Regions from separate parts of the Homo sapiens genome. Here regions 1 and 3 are each linked to region 2. The links come from fine-mapping of genetic effects on gene expression. A gene starts in region 2. Each other region holds a variant in brackets. All regions are shown on one strand. Distances are from middle to middle.

The links. PIP is the estimated chance that this variant, and not a neighbour inherited with it, causes the effect.
Region 1: its variant is the best candidate, but not a certain one, in a credible set for the expression of POPDC1 in esophagus muscle (GTEx, PIP 0.78).
Region 3: its variant is the best candidate, but not a certain one, in a credible set for the expression of POPDC1 in tibial artery (GTEx, PIP 0.65).

The regions. Positions count from the first base shown.
Region 1 is chr6:105,098,393-105,101,120 of GRCh38, reverse strand. It overlaps POPDC1 (popeye domain cAMP effector 1), which reads left to right. Exons shown (of 8, transcript NM_001199563.2): 8 at 1-2,728. The coding sequence ends at 32. Among named protein-coding and RNA genes, the nearest start is that of POPDC1, 37 kb to the left of the region's middle. The variant G/A (reference allele first, on the strand shown) is at 1,253.
Region 2 is chr6:105,135,974-105,138,736 of GRCh38, reverse strand. POPDC1 (popeye domain cAMP effector 1) reads left to right here and starts at 1,580. Exons shown (of 8, transcript NM_001199563.2): 1 at 1,580-1,768. It overlaps POPDC1-AS1 (POPDC1 antisense RNA 1), which reads right to left and starts at 1,050. Exons shown (of 4, transcript NR_037157.1): 1 at 814-1,050. RefSeq lists silencers at 1,542-1,651, 1,662-1,781.
Region 3 is chr6:105,114,432-105,117,194 of GRCh38, reverse strand. It overlaps POPDC1 (popeye domain cAMP effector 1), which reads left to right. Exons shown (of 8, transcript NM_001199563.2): 6 at 327-494; 7 at 1,368-1,509. Among named protein-coding and RNA genes, the nearest start is that of POPDC1, 21 kb to the left of the region's middle. The variant G/T (reference allele first, on the strand shown) is at 1,180.

The DNA of each region.
Region 1 (2,728 bases), 38 kb after region 2:
CAAATACATTGAAAGTCCATCAGCTGCCTTGATCAGAGAGAGAATTCAGGTTACCAAGACGGAAGGTGTCTTGAAGAGATCCTGAAAAATACCAGCACTTTTTCATGGCTTTTAGGTTATTCTGCTTTAGTGCATCCAGACTGGTGGAGTCGGAGGGAGGAAGTGAGGAAGGGTCAAGGATGGAAGAGTTCTTTCACTTACCCTTTTTATTAGTCAGCTTTTAAAGTAATTGTTTTACTGAGCCTTCTGACTATGCCTTGTTCTCTTTTGAGATATATATTTTCACAGTCTTTTCTAGATATATTATTGTTTTAACTTAACAAATCTTAGCAATCTCTCAATGCCTTTTCACTTATTTTTTTCCAAGTTATGATTCTTTTTCCTCACAGTCTTTTTTGTTCCATAGCAATGAGGTTGTCCATTTGATAATTTTAACAAACAATGTAAGTTTAAAATTGAGGCTAAGGTAACATGAAAAAGCAGGGAATCTCAAACTTTATTCCATATATACACACACACACACACACACACACACACACATACATACATACATATATATATATATATACATATATATACATACACACATACATATAATTTTTTTTTTTTTTGAGATGGAGTTTCACTCTGTCGCCCAGGCTGGAGTGTAGTGGCACATTCTCAGCTCACTGCAAACTCCACCTCCTGGATTCACGCCACTCTCCTGCCTCAGCCTCCCGAGTAGCTGGGACTACAGGCACCTGCCACCGCGCCCAGCTAATTTTTTTGTATTTTTAGTAGAGATGGGGTTTCACTGTGTTAGCCAGGATGGTCTCGATCTCCTGACCTCGTGATCCGCCCACCTTGGCCTCCCAGAGTGCTGGGATTACAGGCGTGAGCCACCGCGCCCGGCCTATTCCATATTTTTTTAATGGGACATTTTAGAGAAAGGTGTGATTTGACTGGTTTTATTTTTCTCCCAGGCCAGAAGTATTACTCCACTAGATCACCTTACTTAATTGGGCACTGTGTGGATAACTTGATAATGAACAAAACTCTCAGATTTTACTCACATTACCCTTGTATTATGCCATTTATAAACTGCTCTGAAACCTGAAGCTGGAAAGATAACAGATGGGTTTCTGAGCACGGGGTTAACCTCCAGCTAAACTCAACTTCCTTGGGATTTGGAGTCACCATGTTGTGCACACTCTGGTGTGGGAAACACTTTATGTAGGGTGGGAGGACAGGGGAGTTAAATGGCTGGGCAGGT[G/A]CCACAGGATGAGGCCACTGAAAGATCTGCTTCATTCTTTGATCTGTATTCTGAAGTTCCAGATTGTTCATCTAGAGGCAGAGACATCTCTTTTAAAAAAGTGCCAGATGCCCCAGTGCCAGAGCTGCGAACGTGAACACAGTGGAAGGCAGAGGGTTTACTACAGGCCAGGCCATGGACACCCCACCCAGGTACTGCAGTGAGGGCCTTGATTCCAGAGCTCTTTTTCCTACTGAAATCATGGTTTAGTAAACAGTGGCATTTGGCTGGTGGGAAATGCGTAACTGGTCAGTGTGTCTGGCCAGCGTGGCTGTGGCACTTGGCCAGGACGCTCCGTTGAATGAAGCTCATTGATTGGCCATGCTGGTCATGTCTATTTTGCTTCATCCACTAGAACCAACTTTGAGTCAGTCTCCTGTTACGTTAAATGGCTAAGAAAAGTTCCAAATGAAGTTGTTCTCAGGTGAACTGAGCCAAAAGAAGCAACTCTTACCATGAGGTGATTTCTGTTAGAGGAGACATATAAATAAGCTCATCTAGGGTCACCTCATTTTCCTAAATATGTTTTTAAAGCAATTATTGTAGTAATTTCATTTGAGTTAAATTTACATGCTCGGTCACTCATTGAGAAAATTTACACAGACTCTGAATCCAGTTCCTGTCATCTTCAGATGTTGGTTTATTGACATCACAGTAAAAAGGCTACTGTCGACTGGACACAGTGGCTCACACATGTAATCACAGCACTTTGGGGGGCCAAGGTGGGTGGATTGCTTAAGCCCAGGAGTTCAAGACCAGCCTGGGCAACATGGCTAAACCCCATCTCTACAAAAAAAATTAGCTGGGTGTGGTGGTACATACCTGTAGTCCCAGCTACTCAGAAGGCTGAGGTGGGAGGTTCACTTGAACCTGGGAGGTTGAGGTTGCAGTGAGCACAGATCACACCACTGCACTCCAGCCTGGGCAACAGAGTGAGACCCTATTTCAAAAAAAGGCTGCTTTCACTGTACTGCTGCAGCAGTCTCTTCAGGTAGCTAAATTAGGAGCTTGTTTTGGAGAAATGAAGCAAAGGTGAATGACAGCCTAGGCTTGAAATTATAAAGCTCTCTCAGGTTGAACTCTCTCGTGCGCTCTCGCTCTCACTTTCGCCCTGTACCTGAGAGCACAGGTGTAACTGTGATGTCATAGTGCCGAGACTACTTTCCTTTAACCATTGGGGTTAAGTTGGGCAGCCCATTTAGTTTACACGCGCATAAGACTAATTTACAAAATCACTCTATACAGTCATTAGATGTAACATCCTTCCCTGAGTAGAAAGTAATGCATGTGTTTGGAGATTATTTTCTGTAATGCTGGGAACAAACCTGTTTTAAAAGCACACTGCTAAAAGTAGGTGATATAAGACCATTTGCTGTTTTTATTAAAGTATGTGTGTGTATCAGTGTCTCAATGTGAAGATTGTAACCTCAAGATTAG
Region 2 (2,763 bases):
GGGACGTGGGCACACCTGTAATCCCAGCTACTGGGGAGGCTGAGGCAGAAGAATCGCTTGAACCCGGGGGGCGGAGGTTGCAGTGCGCCCAGATCGCGCCATTGCACTCCAGCTTGGGCAACAAGAGTGAAACTCTGCCTCAAAAAAAAAAGGCTGGCAGAGCATCTAGAAAGAAACAGACTCTAAAGAAGTAATCTCAAAAAGTAATCTTTTATGGTTATAGGAAAGTTCAGACGTATTAGAAAAGGAGTTTTATAAATACAATATATATACATAGAACTTATGTCCCAAACACCATTTTAAGACCCTTATATATAATTACACCATTTAGTCCTCAAAACTATACTATGAAGTGCAGGTACAATTATCATAATTATCATCATCATCATCATCATCATCATCATTATCCCCATGTTCCAAAAAGGAAACTGAGGCACAGAAGGGCTAGGTAACTTCTCCAAGGTCACACAGTAAACTGGTAGGAGAGGGAGTATTCAAACCCGGCTTGTGTGACATCAAGGCCCATGCTCTTTCTTACTAGGCTGCACCATCTCTTCAACCAGAGACTTGTCCAGTGTGCACCTCCAGGTACTCTTTATAATGTACCTTCACACAATCGGTGGTGGTATTTTTTATATTGAGATCACATTTCACATGCATGAACGATCTCATAATCTAATAACTGATGCCAATTTTAACCAATAATGGGACACTTTTGGTGGAAACTGGGTACCCATCTAACCTTCCTCTATTGTCCTACAAGACAACTCCCAACAACGCCAATTCTTTATTAAGTTTCCTTGCTTTTCTTACCCAAAATAGTTGTCCAGTGAACAGTAAAAGTTGATCGGAGCATACTCTCATGTCTTATTTTCCAACGTATGGCCCAAATCTACATTCAGGTAGTGCTTTGCCTACGATGGAGGGCCTTGTACCGCCTGGGATTGCTAGTTTCGGTTAAGTACCCCTGTTTGAAAACAAAAACAGTGGCGCGTGTCAGAAGTCCCTCCCGCGCGGCCTCTTCCCCCTCTTCCTCCGCAGCAGGAGGCCTGACCCCCGCGTCCTGCACCCGTGTGGACCAAACGTTCAGCCTCCCCCGCCACAATCGGACGGGAACTCGCGCGCTTTCCGGGCTATTCCCTGTTTGTGCTGAGTTATGGGCGAATCTCCCAAAAAGGAGATATACGAGTGGGTCGTCCAACTTTGAGGGGAAACGAGGATTCTCTTTCTCATTTTCTCTCCTGATTTCTCTCCCTACCCGGACCGCACTTCTCGAATTATCCCCGTAAGGAGGAACGACGAATGCCGCCGGTCCCACGAGACTGCCGCCCCCCACTCATGCCCAAACAAGGATAGAATCTTGTAGCGAGGCGACAAGAAAATAAATAAGCGGGCGTTTCAAACCGAGTCCTCGGGTGTGCAGACCCGCAGCGGAGTCGCGGGAGCGAGGTGGGAAATCCTGGCCGCGGCGCCGGGCTCCGCCCGCCGGGGGGCGCGGGGCGGCGGGCGCATGCGCGTGCGCGGTGCGGCCCCAGCCCTGGCTGCCGCCGCCTGCCGCCGCCGTCGCGATGCCTATTTTAGTCAAAGCGGCTGCGGGCTTGGGGACCCGGCCCGGGCAGCGGAGCTTCCGGACCCGCCGACCCGCCGAGGAGCGCGCGTCGGGCTCCCGTCGAGCAGCTGAGCCCGTGTGCCCCGCGTCCCGCGCCCCGAAGCTGCCGCTCCGAACTTTGGTCGGCGCTGCCCAGGCTCCCCGCCAGGGACCAGCCGGGTAAGGATGGGAGGCGCAGCTGCAGCCGGCTTTCCCCCCGCGCCGGGTTGTGTGCGGCCTCGCGCTCCCCTGGCTAAATCGGGAAGCGAAAGTTGGATCTCAGCCCCTCGGGGAGCAACTTTGTCGGCCCTGGCGGCAGCTGCTTGTTCTACGCGCCCGGGCAGCCGGGGGCGCCGCCCTCTGTCCCTCCTCGCTGGCCGCGCCCTCGAGGGGCTCCCGGCCCTTGGAGGCCGCCCTTCTCCCCGGGTCTGGGCGCTGCGGCCACAGAGACCCTCAACGGTCAGCGGCCGCCGCTCAGGTCAGGCAGCCCCAGCGTCCCCGGGCCCTCGGCCCCACCGAGTGCCGGCTCCCGCGCTCTGCGGCGGCAAGCCCCTTGGTGAGCTCCGTCTCTGCTCTCTCCGCCGAGTCTCCGGGGTTCCTCCTCGCCCCCTGTAGGGCCGCCTCGAGCCGCGCAGAGCCTGCGTGCAGCCGGGCGCGCGGTGTCGCCCACTCCGTCCCCGCTCGGAGAGTAGGGTGGGCCACGGCGCTCACTCCTCACCCCCGCGTCCCGAGAGCGCCTGGCCGAGGAGGACCGTTGCCACGGACCCTCCTCCTTTAAGGAGCGAGGTCAGAGGGCCCCGGGAGAGCGCCGATGGCTGGGGACCCGAGGTCCGCGCCACCCACCCGCAACCTCCTTCCCCGAGCCTTTGGGAACGGGTTGTTGGCCAGACAAGTCCCAGAAACTGCCTGCTTTGAAGCATGAATAAGTGCGAAAAGACTCTTAGCAATGTAATGCCATTTGCCATTCGGGAGATGTGCGAAGATTCAGTTAGAATTACAGAATGAATTAACTCGACTAGCAAGACGCTCGTTTGCAGTTATCTTTTTCATTTTTTTAGTTTGGTAGAGGTTTAATGTTAGTTTCAGCATTTAGCTATTTAGCCCTACAATCACCTATTTGAAAAACGATAAACAAAACTTTACTAGTATAGGTAATTTAAGGACTTCAACTTTGA
Region 3 (2,763 bases), 22 kb after region 2:
CATATGTCCAGTGGCATCCTCAGTTGAATACATGCTCCAGCAGCGGTATCAATACAGTGGCCATTCTTCTGTCACCAGACCTCACAAAACAAAACAACAAGGAAACACAGAGAATTTGCTTTTATTTAGTCTGCAGATTGCTTTTTTAAAAAACATAATTTTATACGTGTAGAAGCTTGTGTGCATTGAGTCTCCTTTTTTTTATAATTTGACAAATCATTGCTATGATAATGTCCACTAAATCATTCCTAGTTTTCTAAATCACTATAGTCATAATTCATATACATAGATGTACTTTATTCTTTGCATGCTTGTTTCTTTGGCAGGTCACCATTATTGCAGATGATAACTGCAGATTTTTATGCTGGTCAAGAGAAAGATTAACATACTTTCTGGAATCAGAACCTTTCTTGTATGAAATCTTTAGGTATCTTATTGGAAAAGACATCACAAATAAGCTCTACTCATTGAATGATCCCACCTTAAATGATAAAGTAAGTGTTCTCTGAGTTTATTTTGTTAAATAAATATGTATATGAGGTATATTTCACTTTATGAAATATGTTTTCCTGAATTTTTAGTAACTAGCCATATGTTAAATGTACTGGGGATACTTGTAATCTTGAGAGGAGAAAGTATTTTGTAATGATTAGATTTGCTGTTACTTAGTAAGGAGTCTACAATTGTCAGGGACTAGCATTTATGGTGATAAGGCACCCTCTTCATCAAGAGCATTTTAAGGAAGATGGTAAAGGAGTAAGAGGGGGTGGAGGATGGAGTAAGTTAGGGAGGACAGGGCAGCTGGAGGTTTGCAGACAGAGAAAGGCTGACAGACCCCAGCGATCAGGAAGTTGGCCTTTGAACCCTGCTGTCTTCCAGTCTTGCATATCTTCAGGTCAGGCGAGAAAGTGAAAGGAGAGGTGTAGAGCTGCATAGATCTTCAGCAATTTGCAATTTGATCTTAATTTTCCCGTATCTTTTTAGAAAGAAATTAAAATGATTACAAGAGAGAATTTTTAAAAACGTCGTTTCTGTGATAAGTACTGTTACCCAGTGACAATTGAGTATATGTGCCCTTTCAAAATCATCTTATCTGGACTGTTTATCAAATTAAGCTGGTGCTTATTTCAGTTAATTATTTAGCTTATTATAAATAGGCTACTAAGTATATTTGATTTT[G/T]TATAATATATTTATAGTAATAGCTAATAATAAAAATCATAGCTTATGTTTATTGGCCACCTAATATGTATCAGGTATTCTTTTTTTTAAATGCACTAACGTATTTCTAGGAAAAGTACATGCTGCTTAAATGGAATGTATGATTCAACTCCCATAATTCTCAGAAAGCTTAAAACTTTGCTTTGTAGAAAGCCAAAAAGCTGGAACATCAGCTCAGCCTCTGCACACAGATCTCCATGTTGGAAATGAGGAACAGTATAGCCAGCTCCAGTGACAGTGACGACGGCTTGCACCAGTTTCTTCGGGGTACCTCCAGCATGTCCTCTCTTCGTAAGTTATCCCAAAACTGATACTACTCCAGAGTTCTGATGGGTATCTCTGGACATAGACAAATGACAACTTTGATTAGAAAAATAACTTTGCAGGTAACTATTTGAAAGGCAACCTAAAGGTAACAATAAAAACAATCAAATTTTGTTTAGCATTTCCCCCATATTGCATATGAGCTAAAAGCCAACTTTAGAACTATTATTTCTGTTTCAGAAATTGAAATTGTTCACTGGTTTTGCCATATACTTTGCTTAAATAGTGGCTCACTGGCTGGGCATGGTGGCTTACGCCTGTAATCCCAGCACTTTGGGAGGCTGAGGCGGGCAGATCAGCACTTTGGGAGGCTGAGGCGGGCGGATCACGAGGTCAGGAGATCAAGACCATCCTGACTAATACGGTGAAACCCCGTCTCTACTAAAAATACAAAAAAAATTAGCCGGGCTTGGTGGCAGGCGCCTGTAGTCCTGGCTACTCGGGAGGCTGAGGCAGGAGAATGGCGTGAACCTGGGAGGCGGAGCTTGCAGTGAGTTGAGATCACGCCACTGCACTCCAGCCTGGGCGACAGAGCGAGACTCCGTCTCAAAAATAAAAAATAGTGGCTCACCAGAATACTCTAAGAGTCCACATGGTTTGATTTTTTTGCTTTGGTTTTGTTTGTTTTTGTTGCCATTTGGCTTTGTTACTTTCATGACTTTAGTTAGAGTGAAAGCCTAGACCCAGAAATGTTTTACTAAATGGTAGACAAATAAATGCTGGGTGTTCTGCTGCTGGCTGGTTATCTCAGTATGAGTGCCGTGAGTTAAAAAGTGACTGAGAAATGGATTATTCCCAAAGATGAAGGAGATCACTCAACACCCTTGTGAGCTACCTCATTCACACGCCTGCCAAGAGGCACATTTTCCGGTATTCTTCCATAGTTTAGATTGTTTCAAAACATTTTAAGTAACACAAATAACCCAGATGTTGAAAATTAGTAAGTAAAATGAGAAAAACTAAATTAAGAATTAAATACTTTAAGAATTATTCTAAGAATGATGGTATAAAAACTTTGAACAAATTCATATGAAATAGCAAAAAGGCAGACATTCTTCCATTGCATGAATTAAAAACTATTCATATTTCCAATTGTATTTTAAACCAAATTAACTTTTAAAAAATGCAAACACATTCAACAATTCTTTATGTAAATGATTTGTAACTTTGTATGCCTTTAGATAAATTATATTAGGGATTTTAAGTATTGCATAGTCAGGA